Regions from separate parts of the Homo sapiens genome. Here region 1 is linked to region 2. The links come from fine-mapping of genetic effects on gene expression. A gene starts in region 2. The other region holds a variant in brackets. All regions are shown on one strand. Distances are from middle to middle. Region 1 overlaps USP49 (ubiquitin specific peptidase 49). Region 2 holds the start of TOMM6 (translocase of outer mitochondrial membrane 6).

Region 1 (5,525 bases), 63 kb before region 2:
TTATCTTTTTGTGTGTGTGGTAAAAAAACATAAAATTTAACATCTTAAACCCTTCATTTTCAAGAGTACAGTTCACTAGTATTTAGTATATTTGCATTGCTGTGAAACAGTTCTAAAGTTTTTCATTTTGCAACAGTTTTCATTTTGCAAATCTGAAACTCTATACGCATTAAAAAACTCTCCATCCTCTTCCCCAGTCCCTGGCAACCACCATTCTACTTTGTCTCTATGAATTTGACTTCTTTAGATACCTCATATAAATGGAATCATACAGTATTTGTCTTTTTCCGATGGGCATATTTCATTTTGCCTAAAGTCCACAAGGCTCATTTATGTTGTAGCATGTGTCAAAATTCTCCCCCCCAGCTCTTTTTTTTTGAGATGGAGTTTCGCTCTTGTTGCCCAGGCTGGAGTGCAATGGCGCCATCTCGGCTCATTGCAACCTCCACCTGCTGGGTTCAAGCGATTCTCCTGCCTTAGCCTCCTGAGTAACAGGGATTACAGGCGCAGGCCACCATGCCCAGCTAATTTTTGTATTTTTAGTAGAGATGGGGTTTCTCCATGTTAGGCTGGTTTCGAACTCCTGACCTCAGGTGATCCATCCGCCTAGGCCTCTCAAAGTGCTGGGATTACAGGTGTGAGCCACTGTGCCTGGCCAGAATTCTTTCATTTTTAAGGCTGAATAATATTCCATCTCATGTGTATACCACATTTTGTTTATCCGTTTATCCATTGATGGACATTTTGGTTGCCTCCACTTCTTGGCTGTTATGAATAGTGCTGCTATGAACATTGGTGTTAAATATCTCAAGGTCTCTTGAAATTTCATATGAGTTTTAGAATTAATTTTTGTATTTCAGAAAATTGCTGCTGGGATTTTGATAGGGCTTGCATCGAATCTGTATATTGCTTTTGGTAGGATTAACATTTTAACAATACCAAGTCTTCCAATCCAGGAACATGGATATCTTTCCATTTATTTGTGTCTTTAATTTCTTTCCACAATGTTTTATAGTCTTCATCGTCCAAGTCTTTCACTTGCTCAGTTTTATTCCTAAGTGTATTTTATGCTGTTATTAATGAGATTTTAAAAAATTTCCTTTTGAATTGTTCATTGTTAGTGTATATAAATACAGCAGATTTTTGCATATTGATTTTGAATCCTGCAGCTTTGCTGAATTTGTCTATTCTAACAATTTTTTTGCAAACTCGTTAGGATTTTCTTTTTCTTTCTTTTCTGAGATGGAGTTTCACTCTCGTTGCCCAGGCTGGAGTGCAGGGGCACAATCTCAGCTCACTGCAACCTCCGCCTCCTGGGTTCAAGTAATTCTCCTGCCTCAGCCTCCCAAGTAGCTTGGATTACAGGCATGTACCACCACACCCAACTAATTTTGTATTTTTAGTAGAGATGGGGTTTTACCATGTTGGTCAGGCTAGTCTCGAACTCCTGACTTCAGGTGATCCGCCCTCCTCGTCCACCCAAAGTGCTGGGATTACAGCACAGGTGTGAGCCACCGTGCCCGGCCCAGGATTTTCTATATATTAGATCATGTTATCTGAGAACAGATAAATTTACTTCTTTTCTTTCTTTTTTTTTTTTTTTTTTTTTTTTGAGACGAGTCTCGCTCTGTCTCCCAGGCTGGAGTGCAGTGGCGCGATCTCAGCTCACTGCAGCCTCTGCTTCCCAGGTTCAAGCAGTTGTCTGCCTCAGCCTCCCGAGTGGCTGGGATTACAGGTGCCCGCCGCAATGCCTGGCTAATTTTTTTGTATTTTTAGTAGAGATGGGGTTTCACCATCTTGGCCAGGCTGGTCTTGAACTCCTGATCTCGTGATCCATCTGCCTTGGCCTCCCAAAGTGCTGGGATTACAGGTGTGAGCCACCTTGCCCAGCCCAGGTAAATTTACTTCTTTTCCAATTTGCCTAATTGCACTGACTAGAACTTTCAACATTATGTTGAATAGAAGTAGTGAGAGTGTGCATGCTTGGCTTGTTCCTTGTCTTAGAGAAAAGGCTTTTATTCTTTCACCACTGAGTATGATATTATCTGTGAGGGTTTCATACATGGTCTTTATGATTTTGAGGCAGTTTCCTTCTATTTATACTTTGTTTGATGTTTTGTCATAAAAGGGTGTTTTGTTGAATCTTGTCCAGTGCCTTTTTTGCATCAATTGAGATGGTCATCTTTTTGTCCTTATTCTGTTAAAGTGATGTGTTACATTGATTGATATTCATATGTTGAATCATACATGCATTCCAGAAATGAGTCCTACTTATTGATAATATGTAATTCTTTTAACATGCTACTGAATTTTCCAGTATTTTGTTGAGGGTTTTTACCTCAATACTCACAAAGAATATTCATCTGTAGTTATCTTTTCTTGATGTCTGTGTCTGGTTTAGTGTCAGGGTAATGCTGGCATCATAGAATGAGCTTGGAAGTGTTCCCTCCTCCTCAGTTTTTGGAAGAGTTTGAGAAAACTTGGCATTCATTATTTTTTAATGTTTGGTAGAATTCTCTAGTGAAGCCATCTGGTCCTGGGCTTTTCTTTGTTGGCAGTTTTTTGGTTACTGATTTAATCTCCTTACTCATTGGTTTTTTTCAGCTTTTCTATTTCTTCATGATTCAGTCTTGGTAAGTTGTGTGTTTCTAAGAATTTATCCATGGCCAGGCGCGGTGGCTTACGCCTGTAATCCTAGCACTTTGGGAGGTCGAGGTGGGCGGATCAGGAGGTCAAGAGATCGAGACCAGCCTGGCCAACATGGTGAAACCGCATCTCTACTAAAAATACAAAAATTAGCTGGGCGTGGTGGCGCACCTGCAGTCCCAGCTACTCAGGAGGCTGAGACATGAGAATTGCTGGAACCCAGGAGGCGGAGGTTGCAGTGAACCGAGATGGCGCCACTGCACTCCAGCCTGGCAACAGAATGAGACTCTGTCTCAAAAAAAAAAAAAAGAATTTATCCATTTATTCTAGGTTATCCAGTTTGTTGGTGTGCAATTGTTTATAGTAGTCTCTTATAATCCTTTTTATTTCTGTGACATCAGTTACAATTTCCCCTTTCATTTCTGATTTTATTTTATATTATTTATTTATTTATTTTTTT[T/A]TTTTTTCTTTCCTTAGAGGCTGAGTCTCACTCTGTTGCCCAGGCTGGAGTGTAGTGGCACGATCTCAGCTCACTGCAACCTCTGCCTCCCAGGTTCAAGCGATTCTCCTGCCTCAGCCTCCCGAGTAGTTGGGACTAGAGGCGTGTGCCACCTTGTCTGGCTAATTTTTGTATTTTTAGTAGAGATGGGGTTTCACCATGTTGGCCAGGCTGGTCTTGAACTCCTGACCTCAGGTGATCCGCCCACCTTGGCCTCCCAAAGTGCTGAGATTACGGGCATGAGCCACCGCACCTGGACCTTTCTTCTTTTTTAATATATGCTTTTACAACCATAAATTGACCTCTTAACACTGCTTTTCCTGTATCCCATATGTTTTGATACATTTTCATTTTTATTTGTCTCAAGGTATTTTCTAACTTCTCTTGTGACTTGTTTGATCCTGTGGCTATTTTAAGAGTGGATTGTTTAATTTCCACATATTTGTGGATTTTCCAGTTTTCCTTGTGCCATTGATTTCTAGTTTCATTTCATTGTCATTAGAAAAGATACTTTGTGCCGGGCACAGTGGCTCATGCCTGTAATCCCAGCACTTTGGGAGGTCGAAGCGGTGGATCATGAGGTCAGGAGATCAAGACCATATTGGCCAACATGGTAAAACCTTGTCTCTACTAAAATACAAAAAATTAGCTGGGCGTGGCGGCGCGTGCCTGTAATCCCAGCTACTTGGGAGGCTGAGGCAGGGGAATCACTTGAACCCGGGAGGCAGAGGTTGCAGTGAGCTGAGATCATGCCACTGCACTCCAGCCTGGCAACAGAGCAACACTCAGTCTCCAAAAAAAAAAAAAAGAAAGAAAAGAAAAGATACTTTGTGTGATTTTAGTCTTCTTGAATTTGTTAAGATTTGTTTTGTGGCCTAACATTGGTCTTTCCTAGAGATGTTCCATGTGCACTTGAGAAGAATGTATATTCTGCTGTTGTTAGGTAGAGTTCTCTATATATGTCTATTAGGTCCATTTGGTGTATAATGTTGTTCAGGTCCTCTCTTTCCATGTTGATCTTCTGTCTGGTTGTTCTGTCCATTATTGAAAGTGGAGTTTTGAAGTTCTCTACTGTAATTGTGTTGCTCTTTTACCCTTCAATTCTGTCTAAGTTTATTTCATATATTTAGAAGCTCTGATGTTTGGAGCATAAATATTTATTATTGTATATCTTCCTGGTTTACCCTTTTATCATGTCATTTTTTATCTTTTATGAGAGTTTTTTATTTAAAATCTATTTTGTCTGACATTAATATAGCCACTCCTGCTCTCTTCTGGTTACCATTTGCATGGAATATCTTTTTCCAGACTTTTCAATCTATGTGTCCTTAGAGCTAAAGTGAGTCTCTTGTAGACAGCATATAGTTGGATCCTTTTTTAACTCCAGTCAATATATGACTTTACATTTAAAGTTAATTACTGGCCCAGCATGGTGGCTCCTGCCTGTAATTCCAACACTTTGGCAGGCCAAGACAAGAAGATCACTTGAGGCCAGGAGTTAGAAACCAGCCTGGGCAACATAGGGAAGAACCCATTTCTCTCTCTCTCATTTTTTTTTTTTTTTTAGACGGTGTCTCACTGGTGTTGTCCAGGCTGGAGTGCAGTGGCGCGATCTTGGCTCAATGCAAGCTCTGCCTCCCGGGTTCACACCATTCTCCTGCCTCAGCCTCCCAAGTAGCTGGGACTACAGGTGCCTGCCACTGCACCTGGCTAATTTTTTGTATTTTTAGTAGAGATGGGGTTTCATGTTAGCCAGGATGGTGTCAATCTCCTGACCTTATGATCCGTGTGCCTTGGCCTCCCAAAGTGCGGGGATTACAGGTGTGAGCCACTGCACCCGGCCAGGGAAGACCCTATTTCTCCAAAAAATATATATATATTTTTAATTAGCCAGATGTTGTGGCATGCACCCATAGTCCCAGCTACCCAGGAGGCTGAGGCAGGAGGATTGCTTGAGCCCAGGAGGTCGAGGCTGCACTGAACCATGATAGTGCCACTGCACTGTAGCCTGGGTAACAGCGTGCGAGCCTATCTAAAACAAAACATAGGCTACCAATAGGGAGGGAAGGATTTACTATTGCCATTTTGTTAATTGTTTTTGGTATATTTTGTAGCTTTTTTGTCCCTTCTTTTTTACTGCCTTTTTCGTGTTTTGTTGATTTTTTTTGTAGCGATGTATGTTGATTCTCTTCTCATTTCCTATTATATATATTCTATAGATACTTTATTTGTGTTTATTGTTGTGATTGCATAAATCATCTTTAAAGTTACAGCATTCTGTTTTAAATTGTTAAAAACTTCATTCACATACAGAAAACTACTTCTTTGGAGTTTCTGCTGGTAAATCTGGGAATGGAAACTCCCTTGTATGTGATGAATC
Region 2 (5,131 bases):
CATCACTGCCCTCTTTCTGCCACCAAACCTCACTATTCCAGCAATGATGCCTCCCTGGTGTCTGGAAAACCCATCTGGTGCACTAAAATGCTATGCAACACCAAATGGCTTCTTCCCCTAATATTGCTCAACAATGTAAATTCTTCAAGAATAAACTTCATGCTAGGTTAACATCAATGTATGGTTACAGCTTCCTTTTTTTTTTTTCCCTTTTAAAATGAAGCAAACCACCTCCATTAAAATCCATGTTTTGGGGCTTGTTTTTGTCTCTCAAGTGTGAAATATAAATCATGTTTTTATGATTTTTGTAAATCTTTTTACACCTTGTTTTTGTAAGCAAAAGTTTCTTATTAAAAGAATAAAATGACTGCCTTTGTGTGCGGTATTTATTTCAAATGTTTTTTAAAACAGCACTGTTATTTCTCAGGACAAGAGCAAAAATCACCCCCTGCAGAAGCTTGGGAACTATGTACAGAACTTTACAGAATAGAGGCAATACTTTAGCTTAAGCCTGTCTGCTGACCAGAGAATGGAATTCTGCGTGGACTCAAGGAACAAAAGGAAACTAGGCAGGGAAGGGGAAGAAAAGTGCCCATCTGAATCAAACTTCAGCTGCCATCAGGGCACATCTTGTGGTGGTCACAGATTGTAGGCTGTTTTTTGGAAGATTCGGGTTCAGCACAGGATTCCATTTGTCTGCAATCAGATGATAAGACGACAGGTGGCATTAGAACTGTAAAAGTATGGGAGGGAAACTGGTAAGAGATACTTAAATCCCTTTCAACATCTGAAAACACATTTAACTAGGAATAGTTAAGGGTTTTACATCACATTCTTTTGTACATTTCATGAATACTTGACAGAAAACATTGCTTCACCCAGTCTCTAGGTCTCCTAAGACACGCATGGGTGTAGTTCAGTGCTTACCTACTTGGCTACACCCCTGGCTGAGGTGCCATGAGGTCAATGTCACTCAAGTTCCTGGCCAGCCAAACTCCCGCAGCAAAGAGTCCCAAATTTAGTATCAAGTTCCTGGAAAAACAATGTGTTTTATTAACCCTGTGGTCACTGAGTCAGTTGTACAGTTAACGAAATGTACTGGGGGGAAAGGCTTCCATCACCACCTTCCCGAGGCGTTGATACGTGGTTGTGACGGCAGGTTGCTCAAGACCCACGTGGGAATTTGGAGTTCATTTTTGTGCCTAGTAAGTGTAAGGTCAGGCTGGGCGCGGTGGTTCACGCCTGTAATCCCAGCACTTTGGAAGGCCAAGGCAGGCGGATCACGAAGTCAGGAGCTCGAGACCAGCCTGGCCAACATGGTGAAACCCCGTCTCTACTAAAAATACAAAAATTAGCTGGGCGTGGTGGTGCGCGCCTGTAATCCCAGCTACTGGGGAGGCTGAGGCAGGAAAATCGCTTGAACCCGGGAGGCGGAGGCTGCAGTGAGCTGAGGTCCGCCACTACACTCCAGCCTGGGCGACAGAGCGAGGCTGTCTCAAAAAGAAATAAATGTGGCCGGGCGCGGTGGCTCACGCCTGTAATCCCAGCACTTTGGGAGGCAGAGTCGGGTGGATCGAGAAGTCAGGAGTTTGAGACCAGCCTGCCCAAGATGGTGAAACCCCGTCTCTACTAAAAATACAAAAATTAGCTGGGCGTGGTGGCGCGCGCTTGTAATCCCAGCTACTGGGGAGGCTGAGGCAGGAGAATCGCTTGAACCCGGGAGGCAGAAGGGGCAGTGAGCCGAGATTGCGCCTCTGCACTCCAGCCTGGGCGACAGAGTGAGACTCCGTCTCAAAAAAAAAAAAAAAAAAAAAAAAAAAGGCCGGGCGTGGTGGCTCACGCCTGTAATCCCAGCACTTTGGGAGGCCGAGGCGGGCGGATCACGAGGTCAGGAGATCGAGACCATCCTGGATAACACGGTGAAACCCCGTCTCTACTAAAAATACAAAAAATTAGCAGGGCGTGGTGGCGGGCGGCCGTAGTCCCAGCTACTCGGGAGGCTGAGGCAGGAGAATGGCGTGAACCCGGGAGGCGGAGCTTGCAGTGAGCCGAGATCGCGCCACTGCACTCCAGCCTGGGCAACAGAGTGAGACTCCGTCTCAAAAAAAAAAAAAAAACAAAAAAGAAATGTAAGATCAAACGCAAAGCCCAGCTAAAGCACTAGTCCAGGGCCGAAAAAGCCTGTTTACGTGCTAGCACTTCTTCCCTTGATCAGGGTGACATTACAGATACAGCCACATGACAGAAAGATCGCTTTTGCCACACGGGAACTCTCCTGGCCAGGGATCTCAGTGAGGCACAGCCAGAGCTACGAAGACGCCACAATGCTGGTAATGTTAAAAAACAAAAACAAAAAACCCTGAGGCGCCAGCCTCGCAAGAAAGGGGAAATACGGATTTAAGGGCCAGAAAAGGACCAAGTTCCTCGGGCTCGGTTACCTCCGGAAGTCATTCCTATCAGTGGCAAAGCGGTAGACGCCCCGAAGCCAATCTCCCACGTTGTCCGGTATTTCGGGAGTTTCATTAGCCGAGCCAGCAGCGCTCACCGGGACAGTGCTGGAAGCCATAGTGGAAAGCTTCGCATGGGCCTCGGTGGAGGAACCGTATCGGCGTCGCCGGTGAATGACGCACCTCCGGTCTGGCACTTCCGGCTGCTACCGGCCGGCAGTGGGGGCGCTGTTCGCTTAGTCCGACATCCGGAAGAGGGACGGCCCTCTGCTGCGCCTCCACGAACTCTAGGAGGGGAGGAGCGCGGCCCGGTTCTACGGTCCCCTGCTCCCGGTCCCACCTCCGGCTCTCCAGCCGGTAACTGTCACGCGTGCTGTGATCATTTAATTGGCTTGGGAGGAGGATGGTGGGGACGGGGCTGTCCCAGCCTGTGGAGGTGGGGGTAGGGGCTATCTCAGCAGGGGAAGCGTAGCTTTGGGGAATGGGTTTTGCCAAGAAAGTCTCCGCCAAAAGTCTTAGAACGCGCAGTACTGAAGGGGGCGCACTCCAAACTTGTCACCTCGCCGCCTCTTGCGGGCGTGCGCCTGACTGCGTCTCAGTCTAGGATTGTTAGGGGGAGGCTAGCCTTGTTCTCCCGCTTTACAGACCCCTTTCCTCCCACTCACATCCCCTCTCTGAGCTGCGCCACTAGCACATGGTGCAGTGCGTCTTAGAGGCGTTGCTGTCCTCTGCTTGGAGGCTTCCGGGGGTCTTCCAGGACTGGGGAAGGCGCTCGCCTAAGAAAAATCCTTCAGGTTCCGAGTCAGAGGAGGAGGAGCAGGTGGAGAAAGGGGTGTCCTTGGGATCACGAATAGTCTCCAGGCGGCATTGCTCCTGCCCTTTGGGTGCCTCCGCTTTGTCCCCAGGTCGGTTCTCCTGCTGGGGACTGGATCCAGGCAGCCCCCTCTGAGTTTGCAGGCTGGAACCGCCGGCAGCAGCGAGGAGTGTTCGGGAGAGGGTTGCAGAGTTCACCGAGGTTTGGTCCCTTCCTTCAGTTCGGTCGAGTCCAGTCTCCCCTGTTCCGGGCCGGGTCGGAAACGCTGGTCTCAGAGCCGCGGAGCTGGACCTACACCGCAGCTAGTGGGGGTGAGGCCCAGCCTCCCGCCCCGCCCAGCCCCTGGGCCGTGCGCGCCGCCGCCGCCGCCGAGAGTCCTCGCCAGGGTCCCCCGCCTCCACCAGAGGGCGTCCGCCTCCCGCGCCTGGGAGGGAGTCTGGCGCCGCAACCCCGACCGCGGCGCGGGGTGGGTTCGGGCGGCCCTTGGAACGCTCCGGCCAGGGATGCGCGGTGAGAGCTGCGGGCCCCGAGGCTTGGGTCTGGGGGGTGCGGTGGGGGCGCTCCTGGAGGGACGGGACGGCGTGGGACCGGGGCGAGGGTCCCAGCCCGGGAGAACCCCCACAGCCCAGCCCAAGCTCCCTCCCGCTTTGCTCTGCATCCTCTCCCTTACCAAGGAATGCCTGCCCTTCCAGTGCCCCGGCCCAGCTCGAGCCTGCATCCGAGTAGCGGTTCTCGAAGCAGCTGGGGCAGCAGGGGCTTCCCCCAGGCAGGGCATAACGTCCCCCGCCCAGAGGCCCGGCGCAGTCCTGGCAACAGAAGTGGTTCTCATGCCAGCGCTGTCCCTCCGCCTCGGTGCAGCGCCAGGAGAAGATCAGCTGGGAGAGGGAGAGGGAGAGGGGAACGTTTCATTCATTCATTCCCTCATTCATTCATCCAGTAACCACGCCTTTTACCCAGTTAACGCTAAAGCACGTCTGCACACATTCCCATTTAATTCACTCAGCCACTTTTGGACGCAGGGAGGACTGATTGGCTTAGCCAGGATCCCAGCTAGCAAGTGGGACAATCCCCAGTGCGACCTGGGGGTCTGGACTCCCAACCCAGGGCTCCAGGCTTCCTTTTATGCTGACATCAAGGGAATTTCTAGCATGATGAGGCACAGCACTGGGCACTCGGCATCTACTGAGATGAGCATGTGTCCAAGACTCCCTGCTCTAGAGAAATTCGATGAGTCCAGGAACATTTGAGGGACTCTGCAGTGGGGGAGGCCAGAGAGAAGGGCACTGGGTCCTACATGCCCAGAGCTCAAGTCAGAACACAGGGAACTTGGTAGTCCCAGGCTGGTTCCTACTTCTCCCCACTCCCTGATACTGGGAGAAACTGTGGCCCAGGAGAGTGTCCCTTTGTATCCTGCCACTCTGGACTCTGGGCAGACCCCCAGTTCCTCCCCTCCAGGCTGTACCTGGTCACAAGCCGGGCAGCGCGGGCGCAGCAACTCTGCATGATGACGGCCGCAGTAGAGTTGTCCATCATGGTAGAAGTAGATGAGGTTTATCAGGGCCTGGCCACAGGCCTGGCAGGCAAAGCAAGGCTGGTGCCAGCAGCGCTGTTCCCCTGCCCGGGCTGCAAACACTCCGTACTCCCCTGGCTTCAGCAGCTCCCTACACTGTCAGAGGGGAGGTGCTGAGGTGGTCGGAGTAAGCACTACCATCCTAACTTCCCTCCTTGCTCTTGCAATCCGATCCCAACCTGTTCTCGCCATACCCTAGCAAGCCCACATCCACTGCAACCTATACCAAGAGCTTGCAAACTTGGTTTCTGTTTTTCCTGTTTCCCAACCAGAATCCCAGAAGCTAGCCCAGCCCCTTCT

What was found.
Region 1: its variant is fine-mapped to the expression of TOMM6 in T cells (TOPMed, PIP 0.99).

What each region holds. Positions count from the first base shown.
Region 1 is chr6:41,848,040-41,853,564 of GRCh38, reverse strand. The region is part of intron 3 of USP49 (ubiquitin specific peptidase 49); the gene reads left to right. Among named protein-coding and RNA genes, the nearest start is that of USP49, 45 kb to the left of the region's middle. The variant T/A (reference allele first, on the strand shown) is at 3,107.
Region 2 is chr6:41,785,133-41,790,263 of GRCh38, reverse strand. It overlaps TOMM6 (translocase of outer mitochondrial membrane 6), which reads right to left and starts at 2,570. Exons shown (of 3, transcript NM_001382294.1): 1 at 2,439-2,570; 2 at 928-1,032; 3 at 369-696. The coding sequence starts at 2,566. The coding sequence ends at 936. PRICKLE4 (prickle planar cell polarity protein 4) reads right to left here. Exons shown (of 8, transcript NM_013397.6): 6 at 4,724-4,927; 7 at 3,932-4,136; 8 at 2,812-3,502. The coding sequence ends at 3,135. USP49 (ubiquitin specific peptidase 49) reads left to right here. Exons shown (of 8, transcript NM_001286554.2): 8 at 1-368. RefSeq lists enhancers at 2,123-2,812, 1,883-2,882 and a silencer at 3,503-4,022.